Regions from separate parts of the Homo sapiens genome. Here region 2 is linked to region 1. The links come from fine-mapping of genetic effects on gene expression. A gene starts in region 1. The other region holds a variant in brackets. All regions are shown on one strand. Distances are from middle to middle. Region 1 holds the start of DHX34 (DExH-box helicase 34). Region 2 overlaps DHX34 (DExH-box helicase 34).

Region 1 (15,642 bases):
TCAGCGGGCGTGCGGGGTGCAGGTGGCCTGTGGGGCAGCCTGGACACTGGCCTTGCTGCTCACCGTGCCCTCCGCCATCTACCGCCGGCTGCACCAGGAGCACTTCCCAGCCCGGCTGCAGTGTGTGGTGGACTACGGCGGCTCCTCCAGCACCGAGAATGCGGTGACTGCCATCCGGTTTCTTTTTGGCTTCCTGGGGCCCCTGGTGGCCGTGGCCAGCTGCCACAGTGCCCTCCTGTGCTGGGCAGCCCGACGCTGCCGGCCGCTGGGCACAGCCATTGTGGTGGGGTTTTTTGTCTGCTGGGCACCCTACCACCTGCTGGGGCTGGTGCTCACTGTGGCGGCCCCGAACTCCGCACTCCTGGCCAGGGCCCTGCGGGCTGAACCCCTCATCGTGGGCCTTGCCCTCGCTCACAGCTGCCTCAATCCCATGCTCTTCCTGTATTTTGGGAGGGCTCAACTCCGCCGGTCACTGCCAGCTGCCTGTCACTGGGCCCTGAGGGAGTCCCAGGGCCAGGACGAAAGTGTGGACAGCAAGAAATCCACCAGCCATGACCTGGTCTCGGAGATGGAGGTGTAGGCTGGAGAGACATTGTGGGTGTGTATCTTCTTATCTCATTTCACAAGACTGGCTTCAGGCATAGCTGGATCCAGGAGCTCAATGATGTCTTCATTTTATTCCTTCCTTCATTCAACAGATATCCATCATGCACTTGCTATGTGCAAGGCCTTTTTAGGCACTAGAGATATAGCAGTGACCAAAACAGACACAAATCCTGCCCTCAGGGAGCTGATATTCTTCTAGTGGAGGAAGACAGACTATAAACAAAGATATATAGGGCCATTTGCGGTGGCTCACGCCTGTAATTCCAGGGCTTTGGGAGGCTGAGGCAGGTAGATCACTTGAGGTCAGGACTTCAAGACCAGCCTAGCCAATATGGTGAAACCCTGTCTCTACTAAAAATACAAAAATTAGCCGGGCATGGTGGCGCATGCCTGTAGTCCCAGCTACTTGGGAGGCTGAGGCAGAAGAATCGTTTTGAACCCGGGAGGCAGAGGTGACAGTGAGCCAAGATTGAGCCCCTGCACTCCAGCCTGGGCGACAGAGCGAGACTCCGTCTCAAAAAATAAATAAATAAAAGATTCTATTTATTTATTTATTTTTTTGAGATGGAGTCTCGCTCTGTCGCCCAGGCTGGAGTGCAGTGGCACAATCTCGGCTCACTGCAAGCTCCGCCTCCTGAGTTCACGCCATTCTCCTGCCTCAGCCTCCTGAGTAGCTGGGACTACAGGCGCCCGCCACCATGCCCAGCTAATTTTTGTATTTTTAGTAGAGAAGGGGTTTCACCTTGTTAGCCAGGATGGTCTTGATCTCCTGACCTGGTGATCCACCCGCCTCAGCCTCCCAAAGTGCTGGGATTACAGGCGTGAGCCACCGCACCCGGCCAAAAGATTTTAATAGGATCCCTCTGGTTGCTGGTGGAGGTGAGAGTATGGTGTAGGGGCAGTGAAGATCCCAGAGAGGAGGCTACTGTAATGGTCCAAGCAGGAGGTGATAGCGATTTGGATCAGGGTAACAGAGCTGAGGTGGTGAGAGGCTGACAGGTCATGCATCTATTTTGAAGGAAAGGCCAAGTCCAGGCTCCTTAGCTCGGCATTCAAGGCTTCTCTCCACCACTGGACACACTTACTCTCTAGCTTCTCAGACCCTGTAGCAATCAGAATCATGACCCCCGGTGATGTCCACATCTTAATCCCCTGAACCTGTGAAGAGGTGACCTTCCATGGCAAAAGGGACTTTGCAGGTGAGATTAAGTAAAGGATCTTGAGAAGGGGTGGTTATCCTGGATTGTCTGGGTGGGCTCAATGGAGTCACGAGGGTCCTTTTAAGAGGGAGGCAGGAGGGTCAGGGTCAGTCACAGGAGGTGACAACGGAAGCAGATGTCATAGTGACGTGAGGAGGTGCCAAGAAATGCAGGCAGCTTCCAGAAGCTGAAACAGACAAGGAAACAGATTCTCTCTGAAGCTCCCAGAAGGAACACAGACCTCCTGACACTTTTAGACCTCTGATCCGCAGACCTTTAAGAAAATACATTTGTATTGTTTTAAGTCACTATGTTTGGGGTGATTTGTTATAGCAGCCGTGGGAAGCTAATACACACCCTTCGGGCTATATTCACGCTTCTGCATCTTTCCTGAAGCTGTGCCACTGGCTGGAATGTCCTTCTGATCTATGTTGTGCAGTTCAACAATCAAGAGCCATCTGTGGCTATTCAAATTCGAATCAATTGGCCAGGCCTGGTGGCTCCTGCCTATAATCTCAGCACTTTGGGAGGCCGAGGTGGGAGGATTGCATGAGCCCAGGAGTTTGAGACCAGCCTGGGCGACATAGCAAGACCCCATCTCTACAAAAAATACAAAAATTAGCCAGACGTGGTGGGGCGTGCCTGTAGTTCCAGCTACTGAGGAGGGAGTTGCTTGAATCCTTCTGCTTCAATCCTCCTTAAAGCAGGTAGATTGCTTGAGCCCGGGAAGTGGAGTTTGCAGTGAGCTTAGATCACACCGCTGCACTCCAGCCTGGATGTCAGAATGAGACTCCATCTCAAAAAAAAAAAGAAAGAAAGAATAAATTTTCATTTCAAATTTAGTTCCTCGGGCACACTGGCCATAGTTCAAGTGCTCAGTAGCCACATATGGCTGGTGACTGCCATATTCGACAGCACAGCTATAGAACATTGCCATCATAACAGAGATTTCTGTTACAAAATGCTGTTCTAGAATTTACTTTTGAACTCTACCTGCTCAGATCTTTTAAATTACATGGTAGGCCAGGCATGGTGGCTCACGCCTGTGATCCCAGCACTTTCGGAGGCCCAGTCGGGAGGATCCCTTGAGCCCAGAAGCTGGAGACCTGCCTGGGCAACAGAGCAAGACCCCATCTCTACAAAAATAAAAAAAAGAAAATTAGCCTGGTTTGGTGGCACATGCCTGTAGTGCCAGCTACTAGGGAGACTGAAGTGGGAGGATTGCTTCAGCCTGGGAGGTTGAGGCTGCAGTGAGCCGTGATCTCATCACTGCACTCTAGCCTAGGTGACGGAGCGGGACCCTGCCGCTAAATAAATAAATAAATAAATAACATAGTAGTGATACCTGTGTCTGCGGTCATTACTCCAGAACAGCACTTCACATATAGTTTCTCCTTTAAGGTCATTCTCACAACAGCCCAGGGAGATAGGGTGGCATGCTTCATTTTATAAGCTGAGGTCCTGGGAGGGGAGGTCATTTACCCAAGATCACACAGCAAGAACACCAGACAGCTGGAATTTGATCCCAGTTTTGACTCCAATGCTCTTGCTCTTCATCATCAATAATTTCCTTCAAGGCGTCCCTCAAATGTCACTTCCTCCAGGAAGCCCTCCCTGATTTATGCTCCTTCCAGAAAGAATGGGCTCTTCCTTTCTCTGAGTCTCTGGAACACAAGGTCCCAGCTAAACTGTAAATTCCCCAAGGGTAACAACTGGACTAATTTTTTTTAATTTAATTTAATTTTATTTTTTTGAGATGAAGTCTTGCTCTGTCACCCAGGCTGGATTGTAGTGGCACGATCTCGGCTGACCGCAACCTCCACCTCCCGGGTTCAAGCGATTCTTATGCCTCAGCCTCCCGAGTAGCTGGGATTACAGGCGCTGCCACCACACTTGGCTAATTTTTGTATTTTTAGTAGAGACAGGGTTTCACCATGTTGGCCAGGCTGGTCTCGAACTCCTGACCTCAGGTGATCCACCCACCTTGGCCTCCCAAAGTGCTGGGAATACAGGCATGAGCCACCGTTCCCGGCCTTATCCTTGACTTAGAATACCTAACCTCCTGGGAATGCAGCCCATAGGTCTCAGCCTTATTTCACCCAGCTCCTGTTCAAGATGGAGTCACTCTGGTTCACATGCCTCTGACATTTCCCCGCTCCCTTTTATAAGAGAACCTTTAATCCTAAGGGTTGTAGAGGGAGGAAGATACAACTTCTGTGACTTCTTCAGGCTGGACAGGGGTGACGATATACCTGCCTAACTCTTAGGATCTATTGGATTCAGGGTAGACAGGAGCTCAGTCAGAAAGCACTGGTATCACTTTTTTTTTTTTTTTTTTTTTTTGAGACGGAGTTTCACTCTTGTTGCCCAGGCTGGAGTGCAATGGCACGATCTCAGCTCACCACAGCCTCCGCCTCCCAGGTTCAAGCGATTCTCCTGCCTCAGCCTCCCCAGTAGCTGGGACTACAGGCGTGTGCCACCAAACCCAGCTAATGTTTTTTTTTTTTTATTTTTAGTAGAGACGGGGTTTCTCCATGTTGGCCAGGCTGGTCTCGAACTCCCGACCTCAGGTGATCCACCCGCCTCGGCCTCCCAAAGTGCTGGGATTACAGACATGAGCCACCACGCCCGGCCTGATATTTTATTACTTAGTATTTTACTCTGAATTATCATGCGTGAATTAAGACCAAGGCTGTCTTGTAAAATAAAATTTGTTGTGGAACAATTTATACAGCTCCTTTGAGGTAGGAGGCAGGACTCAACTCTGGAGATGGGGCTCGGCTCGAATATTGGACCAAATTGAGGACCAGCTAAAACAGGGAGGAGGCTGAAGCAACTTATTATTTTTATTTATTTTTATTTTTTGGAGAAGGAGTCTTGCTCTGTTACCCAGGCTGGAGTGCAGTGACACGATCTCGGCTCACTGCAACCTCCACCTTCCGGATTCAAGTGATTCTCCTGCCGCAGCCTCCCGAGTAGCTGGGACTACAGGCGCATGCCACCATGCCCAGCTAATATTTTTGTATTTTTTAGTAGAGATGGGGTTTCGCCATATTAGCCAGGCTGGTCTTGAACTCCTGACTCAGGTGATCTGCCCACCTCGGCCTCCCAAAGTGCTGGGATTACAGGTGTGGGCCACCACGCCTGGCCCGAAGCAACTTTCTATGACACGCCTACCAGTGTGCCATGTCAGTTTGCCATTGCCATGGCAACACACCCAGGAGTTACTGCCCCTTCCCATGGCAATGACCCCATGACCCAGAAGTTACTGCCCCTTCCCTAGATATTTCTGCATAAACTGCCCCTTAATCTACATGTAATTAAAAATAGGTATAGGCTATTTTTATACCTATATAAATAGGTATAGGCTAAAAATAGGTATAGGCTGGGCGTGGTGGCTCATGTCTGTAATCCCAGTACTTTGGGAGGCCAATGCAGGTGGATCACCTGAGGTCAGGAGATCAAGACCATCCTGGCTAACATAGTGAAACCCTGTCTCTACTAAAAATACAAAAAATTAGCCAGGCGTGTTGGCGGGAGCCTGTAGACTCAGCTACTCGGGAGGTTGAGGCAGGAGAATGGCGTGAACCCAGGAGGCGGAGCTTGCAGTGAGCCGAGATCACACCACTGCACTCCAGCCTGGGTGACAGAGCAAGACTCCGTCTAAAAAAAAAAAATAGTAAGAAAGAAGGAAAGACACAAAGACAGAAAGAAGGAAGGAAAGAAAGCAAGCTGTTTTCCCCTGCCTTGCCCCTGCTCACCTTTGAATTCTTTTCTGGGCAAAGCCAAGAACCCTCGTGGGCTAAAACCCCGCTTTGGGGCTTAAAGTTTGCAAAATCCTCCCATTAATCTATTGGGACCAGTTGCCACTTAGGAGCATTCTTTGATAACTTTTACAAAACATCTTTTGTGGTTTTTGAAATGTTTTCATTTTGTAGATCATTAGCCCTTCTTTTTTGAACTGGAATACATTTCACGGGAATTTTCAAATTTAAGTCTGTGCAATGTTACATAAAATACCTTTGATTATTAAAAGCCATCTGTTTTGCTATAACTTCCCTTTTTTGTTCTAAAGTTTGTCTATTTCTGCTATTTGTTTTTTTACCATAGAAATATTGATTTCCTTAAGTTTTCAAAGAACCAAGTTATTAATAATTTCTCTAAGAACTAGTCTCAAGCTTGCTATACAATCCTATGGTTGATAGACTGTGGCTTTCTTGTTGATTTCCATTTGTTGTTCATTTCCTCCAATTTTCCTTTTTTAAAAATTATAATTATTGTTTGGATTATTTATTTATTTATTTATTTGTTTGTTTGTTTATTTGAGACAGAGTTTCTCCTTGTCGCCCAGGCTAGAGTGCAATGATGCGATGTTGGCTCACTGCAACCTCCACCTCCTGGGTTCAAGCGATTCTCTTGCCTCAGCCTCCCGAGAAGCTGGGATTACAGGTGTCCGTCATCATGCCTGGCTAATTTTTTATATTTTTAGTAGAGACGGGATTTCATCATGTTGGCTTAGCTGGTCTCGAACTCCTGACCTCAGGTAATCCACCTGCCTCGGCCTCCCAAAGTGCTGGGATTACAGGCGTGAGCCACCGCACCTGGCCTTGTTTGGAAATTTTAAGCAGAATGCTTAGTCCATTTATTCTTCTTCTTTTGATAATAATGTATGAATTGGCTTCTCTATCTCTAAGTTGTTTTCCAGAGGCTTGATAATTATATCCAACGTTCCACTTGACATCCCCAGTTGATGTCCAATGCATAACTCAAACAATATGCTGAAAACAGATCTTCGGATTTTCTCTCTAGCCTCTCTCCCACGTCTTCCTGATGGTAGTAGATGGTGACTCCATATTTCCAAATGCTCAGGCCAAAAACTTTAGAGTCCTTCTTTTTTTTAGACATAGAACTTTTTTCTGGCCAGGCACGGTGGCTCATGCCTGTAATCCCAGCACTTTGGGAGGCCGAGGTGGGCGGATCACGAGGTCAGGAGATCGAGACCATCCTGGCTAACACAGTGAAACCCCGTCTCTACTAAAAATACAAAAAATTAGCCGGGCGTGGTGGCGGGCGCCTGTAGTCCCAGCTATGCGGGAGGCTCAGGCAGGAGAATGGCGGGAACCTGGGAGGCGGAGCCTGCAGTGGGCCGAGATCGCGCCACCGCACTCCAACCTGGGCGACAGCGAGACTCCGTCTCAGAAAAAAAAAACAACAACACTTTTTTCTTTTTTTGAGACAGTCTGGCTCTGTCACCCAGGCTGGAGTGCGGTGGTACCATCATGGCTCACTGCAGCCTCAGTCTCTCAGCCTCCTAGGTTCAATCGATCCTCCCACCTCAGCCTCTTGAGTAGCTGGGACTACAGGCACACACTACCATATCCGACTAACTTTTGTATTTTTTTGTAGAAACAGGGGTTGGCCATATTGCCCAGGCTGGTGTGGAACGCCTGACCTCAGGTGATCCACCTACCCCGGCCTCTCAAACTGTTGGGATTACAGGCGTGAGCCGCCGTGCCCAGCTGTTTCTTCTTTCAGTTAATAAAAGAGAGGGTGCATTGCTGGCTAATGAGATTGTTTCTATACTTGGGGGTCTTCCTGAATGTGTGTGATTGAGTTTATTGCAGAGAAAGGTAACAGAAAATGGGGTTGTAGAAAGAAAAGAGGTAGAGGCTGAGTGAGATGCCCCACATCTGTAATCTCAGTGCTTTGGGAGGCCAAGGCGGGCGGATCACTTGAGATCAGGAGCTGGAGACCAGCCTGGCCCAAATCGTGAAACCTCGTCTCTACTAAAAATACAAAAATCAGCCAGGTGTAGTGGTGTGCGCCTGTAATCCCAGCTACTCGAGAGGCTGAGGCAGGAGAATGGTTTGAACTTGGGAGGCGGAGATTGCAATGAGGTGAGATAACGCCACTGCACTCTAGCCTGGGAGACAGTGAGACTATGTCTCAAAAGAAAAAAAAAAGTTCCTGGGCCCCAGACCAGCTCTCTCTTTGGGTTAAAACCCCGGCGTCCCGGAGCTGAGGCGCACGTGGCTATGCTTGGGGAGGAGAGGGCGGGGCCGGGGAGGAGGCGCTTGCAAGTCTGTACCGCAATGCCTCTACTGGCCTCTAGAGGGCGCAATCACTCGAGGCTCCGCCCCAAGCGAGGCGGGGCGGAAGCGTGCTGTGCACAGGCGCAAGATGGGTCTTGGGCAGCCCAGAGCTTCCGATTGGCTCTTCTGTGGTGGCGGGGCGGGGTCAGAACGAGATGGCTGTGTGCGCAGGCGCAAGACTAGCGCTCTTGGGACCGGAAGTTAAGGCGTTCGCGGCGTGTGGTAAGTGAGGGGGGCGGGACGGGTGTACCGGGTTGTGGCGGCGATGGCTGTCGGAGTTGGGCCGCTTGGGGGTAGTTTGGGGTGCGAGTCCAGGGGCGAGGGAAGTCTCGAGATGAGGAGAAATGTAGGAGGCAGCCGAAGGGCCGGCAAACGCGGACAGAGATGGCACCTGAGCGTCCCTGGGAGAACCTGGGCGACAGGCCAGAGACCGAAAGAAATGGAGGCACGAAAAGAAGCTTCGAGAAACTGAGGGACTGAAAGACGAGGGTGTTGGGAGAGGAGGGAAGCTGAAAACTAGAGAGCGTGGGCGAGAGTGCCGATGGGTTCCAGCGAGAGTCTTAGAGCCCACGAGGCCGAGAGGCGTGGTCGCCCATGAACTTGGGGAGTGGAGGGAAAAGTCGGAAACTGATCGTGGACACTAGAAACAGAAAAAATGGAATTTAGATGGAGAAACGAGACACTGAATCACGGGGGAGACCGAGAGATACGGAAGGATGGAGACAGTTGAAATAGGAAGAACCCCACAAAAGCTGGAGATAATGGAGAACGATGCTGAGAAATGGAAAAGCGAGGGAGTGGAGCCCGAACCCCTGGATTTGAGTGGCTCATGTAACACTCGGCTACTCACTTAGCCTCTCTATTGCTCAGTAAAATAGGGGGTGATCATAGTGCCTGACAGTCGTGAGAAAAGTGTGTGTGTGTATGTACATAGGTGTGGGATAGGAATAGATCATGCAGATAGGATAGGTCTGTGTGTTAATGTGAGTAAGTAAGCATGAGCTATTACTAAAGCTTCTGATATTGGGAGATAAAGTATTAGATGGGGAAATGGAGAGAGGTGGTGATGGAGAGTGAATACTGGAAGGACAAAAGGGAGGAAAAAAAGATTCAAACAGAAAATGAGAAAGGGCGTGGTGACTCACTCCTGTCATCCACAGCACTTTGGGAGGCTGCGGTGGGAGGATCACTTGAGCTTGGGAGGTCGAGGCTGCTGTACGCCGTGATTGTGCCACTGCACTTCAGGCTGGGTGACAGAGTGAGACCCTGTTTCAAAAAAACAAAAATGAATTTTTTTTTTTTTTTTTTGAGATGGAGTTTCGCTCTTGTTGCCCAGGCTGGAGTGCAGTGGTGCGATCTTGGCTCACTGCAACCTCTGCCTCCTGGGTTCAAGCGAGTCTCCTGCCTCAGCCTCCAGAGTAGCTGGGATTACAGGCAGGTGCCACCACCCTGGCTAATTTTGTATTTTTAGTAGAGACGGGATTTTTCCATGTTCGTCAGGCTGGTCTCGCACTCCCGACCTCAGGTGATCTGCCTGCCTCAGCCTCCCAAAGTGCTGGGATTATAGGCGTGAGCCACCATGCCCGGCCTGAAAAAGCATTTTTTTTTTAATGAGAAAGATGGAGAAAGTCAAATGGAGAACTGAAGAGAGATGGAGAAAGGAAGAGTTGGATTACAGAGAAAAATCAGACTACAGAATGACTCATAAGTGAAGAGAGATGCGAGCTGACTAGGACAGGGAAGAGAGATGAGGGTGATGATGAACAAGACGGACTGAAAAAGAGACAGAGGCCTGAAGATGGAGTGGAGAGAGATGGAGGGGACAGAGGGGGAAACAAACCCACTGAAGGCCATGAGCCCAGGGCAAATAGGCCAAGAGACCAAAAGATGGTCAGAGACACAGTTATACAGAAACTAGAAGATGCAGACAATCTAGAAGCCAAAAAAGATAGATACCTTGAGAGGAGCGGGATGCTGTCAGTGGGGCCCAGCATGCATAAGCAGTTTCTAGCCTCAGAAGAATGCTCTCATTTTCTTTTTCTTTTTTTTTTTTTTTTTTTTTTTTTGAGACAGAGTCTCGCTCTGTTGCCCAGGCTGGAGTGCAGTGGCTCAGTCTTGGCTTCCTGCAAGCTCTGCCTCCAGGGTTCGAGTGATTCTCCTGCCTCAGCCTCCCGAGTCGCTGGGACTACCCGAGTAGCCAGGTGCCCGCCACCACACCTGGCTAATTTTTTTTCTCCAGCCTGGGTGACAGAGCAAGACTCCATCTCAAAACAAAAAAGACTCCAACTGTAAGCAAAAAGGCATTTTCTGGTGTAGCTGAGAAGTGGGGGGTTGAAGGGAACTAAGCTTCAAGACCTAAATGATGTTGCCAAGCTTCTCTTCCTCTCCCTCTTTCACCTCTCCCTGTGGTGCAGTGACCATTCTTGTGCCTGTATCTAGTTATTTCTCTAGGATAGATTTTAGGAAAGACTCTGTCATGTTCCAGAGCTACCACAAAGAGCTCCAGGCTTATATCAAACTTGCCTGATTATGATGGATAAAATGAGAGCTTTTCTGTCCTAGCAACCGAGTGTAAATTCCACAAAAGGGCCCTGATTGGCCCTTCTTGGATCATGTGTCCGCTTCTCAGGCCAATCCTTGGTTAGAGGGGGAGTAGACTACTAAGACTGGCCAGGTCTTTGTTACTTGCCTACCCAATAGGGGTTCTTTGTCTTAAAGGCCCTCAGAACCATGTAGAATCGAGGAAGGGCTGTTGTCCAAAGGAAGGTGGATACTGTCCTCAGAAAAGAAGTAAAGGGTTGTGCCAGGCAGGCAAAAATTACATATAACACTTGCAAAATTTTGCCTTTTATCTCAATGTTCTGAATCTCACTGGACCCCGGGTGAAGAACCCTTGCCTTATTCTTTTCATTATATCACACCTCTCTCCTATTACTGCCTGTGGAGACAAGGTTCTGCTGTTGGTTGGCCATGTGACCTACATCTCTCCTTTAGGTCTCAGGTGAAACATCCCCTCCTCCCAGGATCCTTCCCTGATTCCCAAGCATGGGAAGGAGGAGGAACCTCCTTTGGTGTCCCACAGCTCCCTAGGATTCTGTTATCACAGTCCCCATCACTGGATTGTCACAGTCTGATGACGTGTGTGTCACATGAGAGATCATGTGATCATGGCCGTCTGTGAGGACTCTGGTAGTCATATTCATTACCTCCTTTTTCTAGTTCAGTGCTTAAGAAACAGGCTGTTAGAAATGTTTCTAAAAATGGGCTGGGCATGGTGGCTCACACTGGTAATCCCAACACTTTGGGAGGCTAAGGTGGGGGAATTGCTTGAGCCCAGAAGTTTGATATCAACCTGGGCAACATAGTGAGATCTCATCTCTACAAACAGTAAAAAATTAGCTGGGTGTGGTGGCATGTGCCTGTAGTCCCAGCTGCTCGGGAGGCTGAGGCGGGAGGATCGCTTGAGTCCAGGAGGTCGAGGCTGTGGTGAGCCATGATTACGGCACTGCACTCCAGCCTGGGAAACAGAGTGAGACCCTGCCTCAAAAAGAAAAAAACAAAACAAAACCAAAAAAAGCAATGTTCCCAAAAGAGAATTAATGTCTTCTGTTCTCTCTCTTAAGAATCCAGGGCCTGAAAACCCAGAATGAACTTGTGTCCATCCCAGAGATCACTGCAGATGTCATGAGGTACCCTTTGTGTCACCAGCTCAAGCAGGCCTCTGGCCACTTTATCATCTGTGGTGGTCCTGTGCCGTGACCAGGAGGAAAAATTAGCTCTTTGAAGAGAAAGTAGTTCTCTATTGCAGGCACTGGCCTCTTAAATTGTTGCAGGTGGGGAATGGATGAGAATATTTGTTTTGGGTGATCAGAACTGAGACTCCTATTGTGGATTAGTAACATGCCTCCTCCTAGAACAAGGGAGGGCAGGGATCGCCGAGACCACCACCGGGCTCCCAGCGAGGAAGAGGCCTTGGAGAAATGGGACTGGAATTGTCCAGAGACGCGTCGCCTCTTGGAAGATGCCTTCTTCCGTGAAGAGGATTACATCCGTCAGGGTTCTGAGGAATGTCAGAAGTTTTGGACCTTCTTTGAACGCCTGCAGAGATTCCAGAATCTCAAGACCTCCAGGAAGGAGGAGAAAGACCCTGGACAGCCCAAGCACAGCATCCCAGCGCTGGCCGACCTACCTCGCACTTACGACCCACGTTACCGCATCAACCTCTCTGTTCTTGGCCCTGCCACGCGGGGCTCTCAGGGACTGGGCAGGCACTTGCCCGCGGAGAGAGTGGCTGAGTTCCGCCGAGCCCTGTTGCACTACCTGGACTTTGGCCAGAAGCAGGCATTTGGGCGTCTGGCCAAGCTGCAGCGTGAGCGGGCAGCCCTCCCCATCGCCCAGTATGGGAACCGCATCCTGCAGACGCTGAAGGAGCACCAGGTGGTGGTAGTGGCCGGTGACACCGGCTGTGGCAAGTCCACTCAGGTGCCCCAGTACCTGCTGGCTGCTGGCTTCAGTCATGTGGCGTGCACCCAGCCCCGGCGGATCGCCTGCATCTCACTGGCCAAGCGTGTGGGCTTTGAGAGCCTCAGTCAGTATGGCTCACAGGTGAGTGGGACGCACCAGGTTTCCGATTTTTCCAGCGTGACCTTGGGGGAATAGGTTGCTTGTCCATATGGCAGTATCAATAAAAATGAAGCACTTACCCTTGGACCCAGCGATGATTCTTCTAGAACTTTATCCACAGAGTGGCTTGTCTGTGGTCTACATGACAAAGGAGCTAGCATTAACCAGTGTAGCACTTTAACAGCAAAACAATGGGAAATGTCCTAAAGGCTCATCACTTTTTTTTTGAGACGGAGTCTCACTCTGTGGCCCAGGCTGGAGTGCATTGGTGCGATCTTGGCTGACTGCAACCTCTGCCTCCCGGGTTCAAGCAATTCTCCTGCCTCAGCCTCCTGAGTAGCTGGGATTACAGGCACCCGCCACCATGCCCAGCTAATTTTTGTAATTTTAGTAGAGACGGGGTTTCACCATGTTGGTCAGGCTGGGCTCAAACTCCTGACCTCAGGTGATCCACCCACTTCGGCCTCCCAAAGTTTTGGGATTACAGGTGTGAGCCACCACGTTGGGCTGCGAGGGTAATTCTTGACGATCACTGCAATGCAAACTGCCATCTTGGAAGGCCAATAATAGTCCTTCTGTCTCATGGTGGTCATGAGGATGAAATGGGTTGATATACATAAAGCACTTAGAGTGGCATATAATGTCCTGGCACATAGCAGGGACTCAAGAAAAGGTTATTGCTATATAGTTAATATTATATATACATGAGGCACAGTGCTAGATACTTTCTGTGCATTGTCACATGGAATTCTCACAGCATCTAGGAGGAGAACTATAAGGGATGGCATTGCCTGCCCAAGGTCAGTTGGCACTAAGTGGCAGAGGTGAGATTCAAACCCAAGCTGTTGGACTCCAGAGTCTGATGGGTAGGCATGGTATTTGCTTAGATTTTCTTTTTGCTTTTTCTTTTTTTTGAGATGGAGTTTCACTCTTGTTGCCCAGGCTGGAGTGCAATGGTGCGATCTTGGCTCACTGCAACCTCCGCCTCCCGGGTTTAGGTGATTCTCCTGCCTCAGCCTCCCAAGTAGCTGGGATTACAGGCATGCGCCACCACGCCCGGCTAATTTTGTTTGTATTTTTAGTAGAGATGGGGTTTCTCTATGTTAGTCAGGCGGATCTCGAACTCCCTACCTCAGGTGATCCGCCCGCCTCTGCCTCCCAAAGTGCTGGGATTACAGGCGTGAGCCACCGCACCCGGCCTGCTTAGATTTTCAATTTGGGCAGGGCCAGGGGCTGGTACCCAGGCTCAGGGTCCTCTCCTGATCCTTTCTTTCTCCCACCCCAGGTCGGCTACCAGATCCGCTTTGAGAGCACACGTTCGGCGGCCACCAAGATTGTATTCCTGACAGTGGGGCTGCTCCTGCGACAAATCCAGCGGGAACCCAGCCTGCCCCAGTATGAGGTCCTGATTGTGGATGAAGTCCATGAGCGGCATCTCCACAACGATTTCCTCCTGGGCGTCCTCCAGCGCCTGTTGCCCACGCGGCCTGACCTCAAGGTCATCCTCATGTCGGCCACCATCAACATCTCGCTCTTCTCCAGCTATTTCAGCAATGCCCCTGTGGTACAGGTGCCTGGGAGGCTGTTCCCCATCACGGTGAGTACTTCCCCCTCCTCCCACATCCCCAGACCTCCAACCTGGTCTCTGTCCAAACCTGGACATGCCTCTTCTCTCTGCTGCTGTATCTCCCATCTCTTTCATTTAAAGATGTTCTCTTTTTTTAAAGCTACCATTTTCTGAGCATTCATAATCAGCTGGTTAGAGTGCTAAGTGCTTGTTAGAGTAAAAGCTGTTACAAGAAGACCCAAAAATGGCTGGGCGCCGTGGCTCATGCCTGTAATCCCAGCACTTTGGGAGGCCGAGGTGGGTGGATCACGAGGTCAGGAGATTGAGACCATCCTGGCTAACATGGTGAAACCCCATCTCTACTAAAAACACAAAAACAAAATTACCCAGGCATGGTGGTGGGTGCCTGTAGTCCCAGCTACTCGGGAGGCTGAGGCAGGAGAGTGGCGTGAACCTGGGAGGCGGAGCTTGCAGTGAGCCGAGATCGCGCCACTGCACTCCAGCCTAGGTGACAGAGTGAGACTTTGTCTCAAAAAAAAAAAAGACCCAAAAATGTAAAGTCTCAAATAAGAGAAGTTTATTTCTCTCATATAACAGTGTGGCTGGTCCAGGCTGTTGGGCAACTCTGTTCCATGTGGTCATTCAGGGATCCGGGCTCCTCCTTTGTCATTACTCTGCCATCTCACTGGGCAGGATTTCTCAAAGTCAGCAAGATTGACATTTCAGTCTGGATAATTCCTTGTCGTGGGGGCTGTCCTGTGCATTGTAGGATATCTAGCAGCATCCCTGGCCCTACCCACTAGATGCTAGTAGTCTTCTCCTCTGGTTGTGACTATTAAAAATGTCTCCAGACATTGCCATATGTTCCCTCTGGGGCAAAACCACCCCTAATTGAGAAACACTGTCCTAGTGAGTTATCCTTGTCTGTATAGTCAAGACTTACAGGAAGAACTTCATTGTCTCTTGTGATTTCTGGTTCCGGATGCCCATCAATTTGCCTTCTAAGCAGCCATAAAAAAAGAAAGAATGGGTCGGGCACGGTGGCTGGTGCCTGTAATCCCAGCACTTTGGGAGGCTAAGGCAGAAAGATCACGAGGTCAGGAGCCCAAGACCATCCTGGCCAACATGGTGAAATCCCATCTCCACTAAAAATACAAAAATTAGCTGGGCATGGTGACGCACGCCTGTAATCCCAGCTACTTGGAAGGCTGAGGCAGGAGAATTGCTTGAACCCGGAGGTCGAGGTTGCAGTGAGCCAAGATGGCTCCACTGCACTCCACCCTGGGAACAGAGCAAGATCCCATCTCAAAAAAAAAAAAAAGAAAGAAAAGAAAGAGAGAGAGAGAGTGCGAGCCGAGTGTGGTGGCTCATGCCTATAATCCCAGCACTTTAGGAGGCCGAGGCGGGTGGATCACCTAAGGTCAGGAGTTCGAGACCAGCCTGGCCAACAAGGTAAAACCCCGTCTCTACTAAAAATGCAAAAATTAGCTCGAGTGGTGGTGCGCCCCTGTTATCCCAGTTACTCAGGAGGCTGAGGTGGGAGAATTGCTTGAAC
Region 2 (15,642 bases), 28 kb after region 1:
TTGCTGCTCAGGTGGATGCAGGGCACGGTGGGCACAGTGGGGGCTGGGAGCAGTGTTAATTGGCTGTCCTGGGAGGCCAATTAACAGTGACATCTGGGCAGAGGCCTGAAGGAGGGGAGGGGACAGCTGTCCCTCTGGCCCTGGGTCAGGTGAGGAGCTTTGAATTAAATGGGAAGTGTTTAAGTGGAACTGGGTCCTAAGTGGCTGAAGGTGGCCAGAAAATTGATCAGTTGACCTGGCGGTTCTGTGAGGATCTGGAAAGGGCGGGTCCACAGAGGTCGACGGAGACCATTTTCAGTTCCCAGCCCTCCTGATCTCAGGTCTTCAGTAGCCAGTCACAAGCAGATGTGGTGCTCCTCGTCCCCACGCTGTGTCATCAGGAATAGGGCGTTAATCTTGAGGGATTTGGGGCCAGCAGACCCTCTGACCCTGTCGTTCTTGTGTGCACCGTCAGTGTCTCAGGCACTCACCTGACGCTGCAGATGCCACCACCAGAGGCTGGGTGTGGCCTGTGGTGTCTGGCTTGCAAGGCTGTTTCAGAGAATGTGACGCAAAGTGCCCTGGTTGTGCGTGAGTGACAGGAAAGACAGGCTCTCTCGCTTGGATTCCCCAGCACTTGGGGTCATGACAGGGCCTCCCTTGGGAGGCACAGGCAGGTGGAGTACCCAAGATCCCCCAAACGCAGAAAGAAGTCTTGGCTTTTCCACAGCTCAGACCCCTCCCACCTCTCTCCTCTGCACAGCGTGTCCCCAGCTCTGCCCCGCACCCCTCTCTTGCGGGCTCAAGGATGTCAAAACTCTTCCTCTCCCTCATTCCTGAGTCATGCTCACCCCTCCCGGGGAGCTCACTGACTGAGGCTTGTTCATCTTGCCTGATTCTCCTGACTCAAGACTTTCTATTTCCAGCAGCCTGAGGCCCACCATGGCAGGACCACCCATGTATGTGTGTTAACACCATTAAAGCCCCCATCCTTGCAGCACAGCAGGGCTTCAGTGTGGGCAGGAGGCTGGATCCGCTGGACTTGGAGGGCTGCCCAGGCTAAGAAGATGGTTCATTTTTGTTTTATTTATTTATTTATTTATTTAGAGATGGAGTTTCACTCTGTCCTCCAGGCTGGAGTGCAGTGGCATGATCTTGGCTCACTGCAACCTCCACCTCCCGGGTTCAAGTGATCCTCCCACCTCAGCCTCCTGAGTAGCTGGGATTATAGGCATGTGCCACCACACTCAGTTTTTGTATTTTTTAGTAGAAACAGGGTTTCACCACATTGGCCAGGCTAGTCTTGAACTCCTGACCTCAAGTGATCCGCCAGCCTCGGCATCCCTAAGTGCTGGGATTACAGGCGTGAGCCCCTGCGCCCGGCTTCATTTTTGTTTTGGAAGGAAACAGGGCTAGAGCAGGGAGAATCTGAACTGAGAAGCAGAAGAATGTTCTGTGAGCTCTTGCTGTGTGCCGGCGAAAGGCTCTGTGGACTTTCCGTTATTTCATCCTTACCTGCTGAGGGCAGGGCCTCTGATCGCCCCCAGTGTGTAGATGGGGAAACTGAGGCTGGGCCCAGGAGGCTCCTGAGGGCATGGGGAAGCCTGGCTTTGATCGGAGGTGATGGTAAATGCCTCACTCACATTATCTCCCTGAGGGCTGGGGGCAGGTGCCCCCACTTGCCCTGTGGGGAAAACGAGGCTCAGAGAACTGCTGCTCAGGGTCACAGTGGGAACTGAGAGGCACGGATGACCCTGTGCTGGGCGTCCTCTGTGCCAGGTGGAGTTCTGAACGCTTCACAGGGTGAAACACAAAGCATCCTCTTGGCAGCCTGAGGAGAGGCCAATGCTGTTGTTCCCCCGTTTACAGATGGGGAAGCAGCGTCACGGCGAGGTGGGGCCACTTTTCCCTGGTGACAGAGCTGGGGTGTCCTGGAATAGGACAGGGGCCTGCACAGTACAGCCCCAAGCCCTGCTTTACTGCCACCTTTGTTTTATGAGGCCAGCTTTTTTTGTTTGTTTGGTTTTTGAGACGAAGTCTTGCTCTGTTCACTCAGGCTAGAGTGTAATGGCAAGATCTCAGCTCACTGCAGCCTCCGCCTCCAGGGTTCAAGTGATTCTTCTGCCTCAGCCTCCCAAGTAGCTGGGATTACAGGCGCCTGCCACCACACCCAGCTAATTTTTGTATTTTTAGTAGAGATGGAGTTTCACCAGGTTTGCCAGGCTGGTCTCGAACTCCTGACCTCAGGTGATCTGCTTGAGTCCAGTTTTGTGACAGGCACTATGGAAAGTCAGTGAAGGTCAACGGTGGGGGCGGGTCAGACACATGACACAGACCACTAGTTACTGGACAGGTGGGCAAGGGAGCCCCCAGAAGTCCAGCGTCAGCTCGGGCGCCCAGAACCAGGGGATGTCTAGATGCCCGCTGTGGAGCGCTCACAGATGGAGACAGGGTTCACCTGTCTCCAGGTGAGACTCGGCCACCCTGGGAGACGGTTCCTGCCACTTTTCCTCTCTGTGGCCTCCCCTCTGTCCTTCCTCCCCTTTCCCTACCTCTCCCAGCCCCTGCCCCATCTTTCTCCATGTCTTCGCCTTCTGTCCCCTCTTCCTCTTCCACTTCCACCTTGACCTAAACAAAGGCTGCAGGAGAAGATTCATCCTGTGATAAGCACAGGAGTCAGTGCCTGCCTGTGCCAGGGCAGAGCTAGAGGGACTCACTTACAGGTGACACTCTAGCGCGGAGGAGAGACGTCCACCGTGATGGGTCAAAATGAGCTCCTAGAGCAAAGACCAAGCCAGGGAAGCATCAGAGCGCTGGGGGAGTGGGTTGTAAATAGCAAAGTGGGGAACTTGGTGACAGGAGTAGTCAGCGCTTAGACAGTATCTCCTGTGTGTCCAAGGAGGCAGGGACTGGCCATCTCCAATCTACAAATGGGGAAACTGAGGCCCTTGCCCATGGCCACGTGACCAGAAAGCACAGCGCGTGGGTTTGAATCTCCATCTGGGTCACAAGACCCTTAGTGGGCAAGATGGAGGGGGTGGGAGCAGGAGGGCAGGCGGGAGGGCAGGCTGGGGCCCCGAGGGGTGAGGGCTGCGCCTGTCCTGGCACCCAGGAGCCTCAACCCCGTGTCCGCCGCTGCAGGGAAGATGCTGATCCTGGGCTCCATGTTCAGCCTGGTGGAGCCTGTGCTCACCATCGCAGCCGCACTTAGCGTCCAGTCGCCCTTCACCCGCAGCGCCCAGAGCAGCCCAGAGTGCGCGGCAGCACGGCGGCCGCTGGAGAGCGACCAGGGTGACCCCTTCACGCTCTTCAACGTCTTCAACGCCTGGGTGCAGGTGAGGCTGGTGGTGGGGGCCCTCTGTCTGTCACCCTGCTCAGGGCCAAGGCCTTCTGTGGCTGTGGCTCCTCCTCGTGTCCCACCCTCAGCCCCACCCTGGGAGGACCACTGAGCCCCCCACAGACTGGGCCTGCCTGGGGAGGGCCATGTCTCCATCATCCATGCTTTCGGCTCAGGACAGCATGTGCCCAGGCCCGGGGCTGAGAGGAGCCTGGGGTTTCTGAAGCACTGATGAAAACCTGTGCCACCTGGAGAAAGTCCAGGCTCCTTGGGAGGCATCTGGAGATCCAGTATATGTCCCTTGAGTCCTCACCCTAACCCTGGCCCTGTAGTGTAGTGCTGGGGGCCCATCAGTGCCAAAACTACCCTGGCCCTGCCCTCCCGGGGTTCACAGCCCAGTGCAGGGAGACAGACCACTGATGTGACAGTGACAACCCAGAGAGGGCTGGAATGGGGAGTCCAGGGGGCTGGGACAACCCAGCGGGGCATCTAACCCAGTTTGTGGGTAGTCTGGGAGGGCTTCCCATAGGAGGGGGCACTGGGGCTGAGACCTGGAAGCAGGAGAGCAGGTGTCCCTGAGGGATGCCCATTTTGGGGCTCTGGGTGCTCGGTCAGCCCCTCCCTCCCCGCACTGGCCAGGCCCTGACACCCTGGCGTCTGCTCCTCCACCCAGGTGAAATCTGAACGGAGCAGAAACTCTCGCAAGTGGTGCCGCCGCCGGGGCATAGAGGAGCATCGACTGTACGAAATGGCCAACCTTCGGCGCCAGTTCAAGGTGAGGCTCGGGAGGAGGGGTAAGGCCGGCCCCACTCAGGCAGACGTGTGTAAGCACACTCCAGAACACTGCTTCCCCTTCCCAGACAGTGGTCAGACCAGAATCCCACCCTGCACCCACCTCCCCCACCACCCGGTGACCAGGTGTTGGGGCAGCTGGGCAGAGCAAAGGGAGCAGAAATCCAGGAGGGCTTCCTGGAGGGGTGGACCGAGTCAGTGGACATGCAGCATCCTCGGGAAGAGCTCGCCCTCCGGACTGGGGATGCTGAGCTGGCTGCATGGGCATGGTGTTGGAGGCAGCCTACGGTTGTGGTTGGCCGGCACATCTGGAGCCAGACACCTCAGCCACAGATCCCAGCTCTGCCATTTCTGACAGCGTGGCCCCGGGTGTGTTACTGCTTGTCTCTGGGCCTCAGCTTCCCCTCGATAAAAAGAGAGGATAAAAATAGCACTTGCCAGCCGGGCGTGGTGGCTCACGCCTATAATCCTAGCACTTTGGGAGGGCGAGGTGGGTGGATCACGAGGTCAGGAGATCGTGACCATCCTGGACAACATGGTAAAACTCCGTCTCTTCTAAAAATACAAAAATTAGCCAGGCATGGTGGCACGTGCCTGTAATCCCAGCTACTTGGGAGGCTGAAGCAGGAGAGTCGTTTGAACCCAGGAGGTGGAGGTTGTGGTGAGCCGAGATTGAGCCATTGCACTCCAGCCTGGGCAACAAGAGCGAAACTCCACTCAAAAAAAAAAAAAAAAAAAGATTTGGGTTTCTCCTGCGCCCACACAGTTCTGCAGCTTGTTTCATAGATACTGTTCTCCATCTGAGTGCAGACAGACCTGCTGTTAGGTCCTTTTCCATGGTTGTATCCATGGATTGAGAATAGAATAAAAGGGTTCCTGGTGTAATCCATTCTGTTTGGTTGGAGATGGGCAAGCTGAGGCCCAGAGGGGGCAGTCACCCAGCCGACACCTCCGGTACCATTTCTGGGGTCCCGGTGTTGGGGACCACAGATGCCCCGATTGCTCTGAGCATGGGTCCCGAGTTCTCTCTGGCTGCTAGAGCAGTGTTCAGGCTTCATTGGTCCCCAGATGCTTTGAGAATCTAATGGAAAGTGTGAGCCCTTTGCACCCACATGCACACATACAGACACACATGCACGCACAATCTCCTGTGTCCTCCATCGGTCAGGGCTCAGCAGGAAACAGAAGGTCCAACCAAATTGGGTCACTTGAGGAATGTTGACAAGATGTGGGCACGGGGAGGGCAGGGGTCTCAGATTTTATGGGTCACAGGCAGCTGGAGGGTCTGTTGGGTCCAGATGGCCAACCCCGCCGAGCCCCCTCCTCTCTCCACTTGGTCGTTCTGGGATGAGGCCCAGGACTTGGCATTCCCAGCATGTGCCTAGATGCCCCAGGGCTACACTCAGAAGCACTAGTGCAGGACGCCCACCAGGGCTGTGTGGGAAAGCAGGGCCCCCCAGACCCAAGGGGCAGGTGGGGCAGTCAGCAGAGCCTGGAGCCAGCTGTGGGAAAAGGCACTGGACGCCCGCACCTGCCTCCTCTTGCCCCTGGCCCCGGTGTTCCCTCCACTGACCAGCGAGGACAGCTCTCTCTCTGGAGCAGCGATCCATGCCCAGCACCATGCGAGGGGCTGTTTTCAGCCCCCTTTGGGCACTAGCAGCCCTGCCACTGGGAGGGTCCCCATTTCCATGAGTCCAGAGCCCACTGAGTCTGCCCTGAGGCCCTCACCCCTACCCACCTGCCCCTAGGAGCTGTTGGAGGACCACGGGCTGCTGGCTGGGGCCCAGGCCGCGCAGGTAGGGGACAGCTACAGTCGGTTGCAGCAGCGCCGGGAGCGCCGGGCCCTGCACCAGCTGAAACGCCAGCACGAGGAGGGCGCGGGGCGCAGGCGCAAGGTGCTGCGGCTGCAGGAGGAGCAGGACGGCGGCTCCAGTGACGAGGACAGGGCTGGCCCAGCCCCCCCAGGGGCCAGTGATGGCGTGGACATCCAGGTGGGCGCCATGGGCTGTGGGGTGTGGGGGTTTACCAAGGTGGGCCTTGGCCTCTCCTGGGGGGGTCCCAGGGGACATGGCCCTGTCCTCATTTCAGGAGCCGGGTTTCCATGGACGGTGCTTGGTCCCAGGTATCTGCAGAGCCTGGGGGTCTGCGGATCATGGTAGGAGCCCCTCAGGTCCCCTAAGACTCTGCCTCCCCGTGCTCCCCCCAGGATGTGAAGTTCAAGCTTCGGCATGACCTGGCGCAGCTGCAGGCCGCTGCCAGCTCAGCCCAGGACCTGAGCCGCGAGCAGCTGGCTCTGCTGAAGCTGGTGCTGGGCCGGGGCCTGTACCCACAGCTGGCCGTCCCCGACGCCTTCAACAGCAGCCGAAAGGACTCAGACCAGGTGGGGCCTGTTCTGCCCCATCCTATGTTTTGTCCTCCAACACACGAACCCTGAGTGCCTGTCCTGTGCCGGGAATGCAGTGGTGACTGAAACAACCCTGGTTCTGTCCCCATGGGGCTCACAACCCAGTGGGAGGACAGACCCATCCCCAGACAACCCAGAGTGGGCAGGGCTTGGGGAGTCAAGAGCACTATAGGAGCCCACAGGGGGCATCTGCCCCAGATTTGGAGGAGTCAGGGAGGGCTTCCTGGAGGAGGGAACCTGGGCCAGAGGGTGGAGGAGAGGCATCCTGGGCAGAGGAGAGAGCAGATAGGAGGGCTTGTGCTTTCTCTCTGTCCTCCGCAGATTTTCCACACGCAGGCCAAGCAGGGCGCCGTGCTGCACCCCACCTGCGTCTTCGCTGGCAGCCCCGAGGTGCTGCACGCACAGGAGCTGGAGGCCAGCAACTGCGACGGAAGCCGAGGTACAGTGAGCCCAGGCGGAAGGAACCCCCATCCGGGATGTGAGGGGCAGGGATACCGTGAACTCCCAGGCCCCTCTGGCTGGGGCTCCCACACCGGCCCAGGCTGGTATTGACGGGGGCCCACAGGAGGGGAAGTTCCAGGGCCAGGCCTCCCTGGGTAGCCTTGGGTGACTCACCCCTGCTGGGCCTCACCTTCCGCATGGTGGTGATAGTCAACCTAAGCCAGTGTGGCTGTGCCCAGAGAGTGAGCACCGGTCAGGGGGCCTGTCCTATGGACTCTGTGAGCTCCCAGGTGGGTCCTGCAGAGGGAGGCCCCCCTGGCACCCGTGTGCATGGAAGGGTGTCTCGCTGCAGGCATGGCTGCGTGCTGGGAGTCACATTCAGATTTGGCTGACCTTCTTGTCTGAGCCAGGCCACCAAAGCCATGCCGTAAGCATACTCTTTCTATCGATGTGTACTTTGACCGGGTGGGACAGGCGGGCTTCTGATGGGCCTGGGTGGGCCAGGGTGGGCCTGAGCGGTCCTCCTCAACCTTTCAGACGACAAGGACAAGATGAGCAGCAAACACCAGCTCCTCAGCTTCGTGTCCCTGCTGGAGACCAACAAGCCGTACCTGGTGAACTGCGTCCGCATCCCTGCCCTCCAGGTGGGCCTCTGCCCCACCCCGCCCCCATGCCCAGATATGAGAGCTGCGTTGCCCAGGGTGGTGGGTGGGGGCACCGCGTGGGCTTGGAGGGGCCACCTGGCACCTGGGCTGGCCGCAGGCGTCAGCCTTGGGCCGTTGCTGTGGCTGCTTTTTCTCTCATTCATGGACTTGCTCAACAGTTAACCTGCCAAGTGCCTGCTGGGTGCCAGGCGCTGTGCCAGGTGCCAAGGGCGCAGCAGGGAACCAGGCATGAAGCCCAGCCCCTGCCCTCTCGGGCTCTAGTGGCAGGGGACAGTGACAGCAGTAGCACAGTGATGCCCTGAGCGACGTGTGGGAGGGTGGACACAGGGTGTGGTACAAGATAAGGCCACCTGGTGTCCCCAGGCAGAGACCCAAAGAGGAGAGCGTGTGGATCTCGGGGCAGAGTGTTCCAGGCAGTGGGGTGGCCTGCACAGAGGCTCCGAGGCAGACATGTGCCTGGCGTGCAGTCAGCAAGGGAGAGCGTGTGGAGATGAGGCCAGAGAGGCGAGGGAGACAGGACCCTGGGGACTTCTCAGAGCTGGGACAGGGTCCCAGCCAGGAGGGCTGGCAGCTGCCAGGAGGGAGAGGAGGGTGCTGCCCCGGTGGAGGCTGAGGCCGAACTCAGATCATGGATGCCCTTGCATGGGCACCGGCAGCAGAGCCATGGGCCCCATGGCAGCCACTGCCCTGCCCCTAGTGCTCCTCGAGCGTCTTTGTGATCCTAGGCCTGGCCTCGGAGTCCTCACGCAGCCCTGTGGGTCTCCCTTTATAGAGGGGACTGAAGCTCAGGCAGGGGCGGGGATACGTCACCTAAGTCACACACCGAGCAGGTGGCCAAGCCAGAGCTCCTGGGTCACACTGCCCCCTCCTGCCTCCTGGCTCACTACCAGCACTCCCCGGCTTGGGTCCCAGGGAACGTGGAGGGGAGAGAGGAACCTGCAGGCTCCTAGAGCCTCAGGGTTTTGTTGACACTGCGATTGCCACCAACACCACAAAAGCCAGCTCAGCTCAGTCACTTCTGTG[T/C]GTGTCCACACCTCCCTCGAGCCCGTCTGGTGGGCCAGGCACTGTTAGTGTTCAGTGTTCTGGGGCCGGGGGTGCAGCTGTGGTCAATGTCAACCAAACTCCCCACCCTCATGGGGCTCAGATAGGATGGTAGAGGCAGACGGCAAACCAAAAGGGTGATGCCAGGTGCTCATGTGAGCATGGGAAAGCAGGCAGCACGCAGGCCGAGGGACAGAGGATTGGCGACCAGCCGGGCCGCAGGAAGCGGAACAGACCTGCTACCTGAGGCGCTCTCTCCCTGCACTGGACTGCTTGTTGAGAGAATCTGGCCAGCTCACACCTGGAATCCCAGCACCTTGGGAGGCTGAGGTGGGAGGATTGTTTGAGCCCAGGAGTTCAAAGGCAGCCTGGGCAACATAGGGAGACTCTATCTATCTCTACAAAAAATTTTAAAAAGTTAGCTGGGCGTGGTGTTGTGTGCCTGTAATCCCAGCTACTCGGGAGGCTGAGGCAGGAGGATTGCTTGAGCCTGGGAGATTGAGGCTGCAGTGAGCTGTGATTGTTGACACTGCACTCCAGCCTGGGTGACAGAGTGAGACACTGTCTCAAAAAATAATAAGCCGGGCATGGTGGCTCACGCCTATAATCCCGGCACTTTGGGAGGCCGAGGTGTGTGGATCAGTTGAGGCCAGGAGTTTGGGACCAGCCTAGCCAATGTGGTGAAACCCCATCTCTACTAAAAATACAAAAATTAGCCGGGTGGGTGGCGCGTGCCTGTAATCCCAGCTACTAGGGAGGCTGAGGCAGGAAAATCGCTTGAACCTGGGAGGTGGAGGTTGCAGTGAGCCAAGATTGCGCCATTGCATTCCAGCCTGGGCAACAGAGTGAGACTCATCTCAAATAAATAAATAAATTAATAATAATAATAATAAGAAGAAGAAGATGGAGAAACTTCACATTCACATAAGCAGGCAGAACAGTATATGGAGCCCTCCTGTACCATCCCCGGTCCCCAAACCATCCACGCATGGCCAGTCCTGCCCTTTCCTCTGCCCTGGCCCCAGCCCTGAGGATTTTCCCCAACATCTTATGAGCCACAGCACTGGTAATTACAGCGCTGACTTCCGTCCTCACAGAGGAGCGTGTGCTCAGGGTCTGGGCTCTCCCTGCACGTCGTGTGTGTCTGAGTGCCTGCTGTCCCTCTGCCACCCTGCCTGAGAATGCAGCTGTCTCTCTCCCAGCACGCTCCCATCTGCCGCCCCGCCACCCCAGCCCCCTTCCCTGACTCAGCGGCTGCCTTGTTCATGCCGTATCCCCAGCACCCGAAGGGGTGCCTGGTACAGCGGGTAGATGGCGGGTAGGTGGATGCCTCACATAGACAGGGCTGGTGGGTGGGCAGGAGCCCAGCCGGGCAGGGCCTGTCTCCAATAGCGCCCTGCCCCTCCCACCTACTCCCTGTCTTCTGCCCCCTCTCTTTCAGTCCCTCCTGCTTTTTAGCCGGTCTTTGGACACCAATGGTGACTGCTCCCGCCTGGTGGCCGATGGCTGGCTGGAGCTGCAGCTAGCAGACAGTGAAAGTGCCATCCGACTCCTGGCGGCTTCCCTGCGGCTCCGTGCCCGCTGGGAAAGTGCCCTGGACCGGCAGCTGGCGCACCAGGCCCAGCAGCAGCTGGAGGAGGAGGAGGAGGATACGCCAGTCAGCCCCAAGGAGGTGGCCACCCTGAGCAAGGAACTCCTGCAATTCACGGCATCCAAGGTACCCTCCACCAGGGTGCCCGTGCCTCCCTATGGCCAGAAGGGGCATCCGTCACTGGGCTTGAGCCTCGGGAAGGCCTGGCTTCCCATTCACTCCACATGGGCACATTTGGGGGTTTTCAGGCCACAGAGGTTCAGTCACTTACACAAGGTCACTCCACTGGTCTGGGTGGAGCTAGGATTTGATCCCAGGAGCCTGGTTCCAGAGGCCACACTACCCACTGCTGCCTTGTTTACTAAGCACCTTCTGCAAGCGTGGCTGATCCCCTCTTGCTAACAGTAAAGGACAGGCAGGGTGTGAGAGGGAAGCCGTAGACGTCTGCTTGTGGATGGGAAGAACTGAACTGAGCAGACTTGAAACCAGCCCCTGACTCTTAGGTGGGGAGTGGAAATTGCTCGTGGTTCTACTTCATGTGGGTGGGGTGGGGAGAAGGGTACAATCCAGGCTGACTTCCTGGAGTAGAAGGGCTTGAGGACAAAGGAGCAGGAACCCAGTGAGCCATGGAGAGGGGACCAAGGCTGACATGCTAGGAGGAGGAGGGGGGAGGTGGCCAGACTTGAAGGTTAGACTCAAGGTCTGAATGGGGTCCCACCAGTGACAGGGGCAGAAGAGGGGCCTGGGGAGGGCAATTTAGATGGGGGTGGGTTATCAGGTATATTCTAGACAGACCCCTGGTCATGTGTGTCTGCAGCCAAATTGTGATTGGTGTAAGCACTTGGCTCCCGTAACTGCAAAGCCCGAGGGAGGGCTTCAGGCACAGCTGGATCCAGGTGCTTTGGCGGCATCTCCCTGAGTCTGTCTCTCTCCATTTCCTGTCTCTCCTTCCTTAGATTCCTTACAGCCTCCGGCGGCTCACAGGGCTAGAAGTCCAGAACATGTATGTGGGACCCCAGACCATCCCAGCCACCCCCCATCTTCCTGGCCTCTTTGGCAGCTCCACCCTGTCCCCCCACCCCACAAAGGGGGGCTACGCAGTCACTGACTTCCTCACCTACAACTGCCTCACGGTAAGCATGAACCCTCCTTCCCTGAAGGTGGGATTTCAGGAAGACCCCACCACCCCGTTTCACCTTAGTCCAGGGACATAGTTCCCAAGTGGGGCCCGTGGCCCTGAGGGCTTCTGGGAAGGGTCCCGGGGGGGCACTTGGGTGGTGGGTGGCACTTGGCGGGGGCCCAGCCCTGACAGCTGGCCTGCCACAGAATGACACAGACCTGTACAGCGACTGTCTCCGAACCTTCTGGACCTGCCCCCACTGTGGCCTGCATGCGCCCCTCACGCCCCTGGAGCGCATCGCCCATGAGAACACCTGCCCCCAGGCCCCACAGGATGGGCCCCCAGGTAAGCACAGGACTGTGGGGACCCGGCCACCTCTGCCCAGCCGTCTGCCCATCCCATGATGGTCTCCTGTGCGTGTGAGCACTTGCTAGAGCTTCGAGGACTGACGACCTCCACCCGCTGGCCCTGGCTGGTGCCACACACAGGCCTTGTCCTGAAGATCAGGAGCCCAAGGCAGGGAGAGCCTGGAGCGCCACCTCTTTCTGTCTGCCTGTCCCCTGTGGTGTCTCTGTGTTGCTGTCTTTGTCTCTGTTTCTGTCTCTCTGTGGCTATGTCTCTTGTTATTTTTCTCTGTCCTGCAGCTATCTCTGCCTTGGTCACCTCCACCCTGTTGTCACCCAGGGATGCCACACACTGGGGTTCAGTGGGGGAGATAGCACTGGGGCCACATGCCTCCATCCCCGGCTGGCTGTGTCTGCCTCTCAGTCTCCATGTCTCTCCTTGTGTCTTTCTCTCTGTCTCTCTCACTGGCAGGGATGCGGAGTAAAGACAGACCTGTGTATTTTTATTAATCTGGGAGGGCTTCCTGGAGGAGGCAAAACTGGGTTCTCCAAAGGCCAGGAGAGAACCTGAGCCCCACAGGTGCCTGGCATTTGGGTGCAGGTAGACCTGTGCACTGGAACACGCCCCTCACAGCCTCCTCCTTTTCCTCCCTTAGGGGCTGAGGAAGCTGCCCTCGAAACCCTCCAGAAGACATCTGTCCTGCAGAGGCCCTACCACTGCGAGGCCTGCGGGAAGGACTTCCTCTTTACACCCACAGAGGTGCTGCGCCACCGGAAGCAGCACGTGTGAGCTGGGCCAGGAGCCCTGCCCACCTCCGTGCAGCTGACCTGCCCTCCAGCCCAGGACTAGGGGCAGGACTCTTGCCTGAACCCCCAGCCTGGGCTTAGCCCTGTGGTCCTGTCCCAGTGCAGAGGGCCTGGAGCACGGATTGTGAATAAAGCCTCACATGCTGATACACACTGTTAGGCCTGCACCTGCCCATCCAGAAAGCAGCAGCTGCCTTGTTAGTCCTCCCCAGGGTCTAGCTTTCCTTCTTCCTGCTGCAGGGTGCTGCCTGAGGGGTCCTGGGTAGGAGGGGCGTTAGAGCCAGCAGGGACCTCCCATGTCTCCAGATTCCAGGTGCAGGTTCTTAGCACCTCCGCAGCCGCTCTCTCTTGAGTCCATCCTCAGTCTCTCCTACCCCTTGAAGTAGGGGGACCCTGAATTTGCCCATCCACCTGGGTCACTTTGAGAGTTGTGCAGGGGGGCTGGGAGCACTGGTGTTCACGTGGGACCACAGGCTGCACCATAAGACCCACTCACAATAAAAAAATAAAAGGCCGAGCCGGGCATGGTTGCTCACTCCCGTAATAAAAAAATAAAAGAACAGGCTGAGCCGGGCATGGTTGCTCACTCCCGTAATCCCAGCACTTTGGGAGGCTGAGGCGGGTGGATCGCCTGAGGTCAGGAGTTCGAGACCAGCCTGGCCAACATAGTGAAACCCTGTCTCTACTAGAAATACAAAAACTTAGCTGGGTGTGGTGGTGGGCATCTTTAATCCCAGCTACTGGGGAGGCTGAGGCAGGGGAATCACTTGAACCTGGGAGGCAGAGGTTGCAATGAGCTGAGATCATGCCATTGCACTCCAGCCTGGGCGACAAGAGTGAAACTCCATCTCAAAAAAAAAAAAAAAAAAATCAGGCTGAGGCAGGTGGTTTGCCTGAGCTCAGGAGTTTGAGACCAGCCTGGGCAACACGGTGAAACCCCATCTCTATTAAAATACAAAAAATTAGCTGGGCGTGGCAGCGTGTGCCTGTAATCCCAGCTATTCAGGAGGCTGAGACAGGAGAATTGCTAGAACCCAGGAGGCGGAGGTTGCTTGTGAGCCGAGATCGTGCCACTGCACTCCAGCCTGGGTGACAGAGCGAGACTCCATCTCTAAAAGAAAAAAAGAAAATGAAAAGAACAATAAAATCACTCAGGAGAAAAAGAAGGCACGGCATAGGAATGGAAGGAGGACAACCTGTAGGTCCTACAGATGCGAAAAGGAGAAGAGAATACGATAAACAACGTGCCACACAGAAATTCACTCATTTGAAATGGAAAAAATTATTGAAAGACACTAGCTACCCAAAGCTCATTCAGGAAGAAATAGATAACCGGAACAACTCTATTAAGGAAATGTAATTCATAGTTAACAAAGAGAACAGGCTCAGATGGGCTCCCTGGTGACGTCTACCAAACATGGAAATGATACTCGCCCACACCCACTTGGCCACAGCATAGGGGAGGACGCCTCCTGACTGATGTTATGAGGTCAGCATTATCCTGCTGCTAAAAGCAGGCTATGACAATGCAAGAAAAGAAAACTCTAAGCCTTATGAACATAGACAAAAACCCTAAATAGGAGTTCAGCACATCATATTTAGCAATATATAAATACAGTACATCATGGCCAACTGGGGCTTATTCTAGGAATGGAAGGTTGATTTAACATTTGAAAATCAATCTGATTCACCATATTAGAAACAGAAAAAAAAAAAAAGGTTGGGCATGGTGGTTCATGCCTGTAATTCCAGCACTTTGGGAGGCCGATAAGGGTGGATCAGTTGAGTCCAGGAGTTCCAGACTGGGATGGGGAACATAGCAAGACCCTGTCTCTATTAAAAAACACAAAAATTAGCCAGGTGTGGTGGTGCACGCCTATAGTCCCAGCTGCTCGGGAGGCTGAGGTGGGAAGATCACTTGGTGTCAGAAGGCAGACATTGCAGTGAGCTGAGATTGTGCCACTGCACTCCAGCCTGGGCAACAGAGCAAGACCCCATCTCAAAGAAAAAAAGTATATAAACCCCTAGTCTTAGTCAGGGAGATGGATTTGAGAGTCATTTCCCATCTCCTTGGCTGCACATCTCATTAAAGCCTTCTTCTTGGCAATACTCGCTTTAGTGATTGGCTTTCTGTGCGACCAGCAGCAGGACCTGGACTGAACCCCTGATTTTTGGTAACAGATTCCATTCAACAGTTTTTTTTTTTTTTTTTTTTTTTTTTTTTTTTTTTTTTTTTTTGAGGCAGGGTCTCGTTCTGTTGCCCGGGCTGGAGTGCAGTGGTGCAATCTCAGCTTACTGCAGCCTCCACCTCCTGGGCTCAAGTGATCCTCCCAAATCAGTCTCCCAAGTACCTGGGATTACAGGCATGTGCCACCATGCCCAGCTAATTTTTGGGTGTGAATAGGTTTTTTTGTTTGTTTTTTGTAGAGAGTTTCACCATGATGCCCAGGTTGGTCTGGAACCATGGGCTTCCTTTCTTTCCAAGGAAGAAGGCTTTAATCAGATGCGTGGCTGAGGAGATGGGAAATCAGTCTCAAATCCGTCTCCCTAACTAAAACTAGGGGTTTATATACTTTTTTTCTTTGAGATGGGGTCTTGCTCTGTTGCCCAGGCTGGAGTGCAGTGGCACAATCTCAGCTCACTGCAATGTCTGCCTTCTGACACCAAGTGATCTTCCCACCTCAGCCTCCCGAGTAGCTGGGACTATAAGCGTGCACCACCACACCTGGCTAAATTTTGTGTTTGGTGATCTGCCCACCTCAGCTTCCCAAAATGCTGAGATTACAGGTGTGAGCCACTGCACCCGGCTCATTCAACAGTATTTATTTAATTTATTTATTTTTGAGGCGGAGTTTCGCTCTTGTTGCTGAGGCTGGAGTGCAATGGCTCAATCTCGGCTCACTGCAACCTCCGCCTCCCGGGTTCAAGTGGTTCTCCTGCCTCAGCCTCCCAAGTACCTGGGATTACAGGCGAGTGTCACCACACCCAGCTAATTTTGTATTTTTAGTAGAGACGGGGGTTTCTCTATGTTGGTCAGGCTGGTCTCGAACTCCCGACCTCAGGTGATCTGCCCGCCTCAGCCTCCTAAAAATGTTGAGATTACAGGCATGAGCCACCACGC

The links. PIP is the estimated chance that this variant, and not a neighbour inherited with it, causes the effect.
Region 2: its variant is fine-mapped to the expression of DHX34 in whole blood (INTERVAL, PIP 0.97).

What each region holds. Positions count from the first base shown.
Region 1 is chr19:47,341,234-47,356,875 of GRCh38, forward strand. It overlaps DHX34 (DExH-box helicase 34), which reads left to right and starts at 8,082. Exons shown (of 17, transcript NM_014681.6): 1 at 8,082-8,119; 2 at 11,521-12,502; 3 at 13,806-14,117. The coding sequence starts at 11,798. C5AR2 (complement C5a receptor 2) reads left to right here. Exons shown (of 2, transcript NM_001271749.2): 2 at 1-6,096. The coding sequence ends at 580. RefSeq lists enhancers at 7,922-8,826, 13,829-14,328.
Region 2 is chr19:47,369,610-47,385,251 of GRCh38, forward strand. DHX34 (DExH-box helicase 34) reads left to right here. Exons shown (of 17, transcript NM_014681.6): 8 at 3,121-3,314; 9 at 3,990-4,091; 10 at 5,857-6,099; 11 at 6,315-6,488; 12 at 6,834-6,951; 13 at 7,491-7,597; 14 at 10,101-10,376; 15 at 11,207-11,383; 16 at 11,577-11,715; 17 at 12,371-13,095. The coding sequence ends at 12,504. Among named protein-coding and RNA genes, the nearest start is that of DHX34, 28 kb to the left of the region's middle. The variant T/C (reference allele first, on the strand shown) is at 8,642.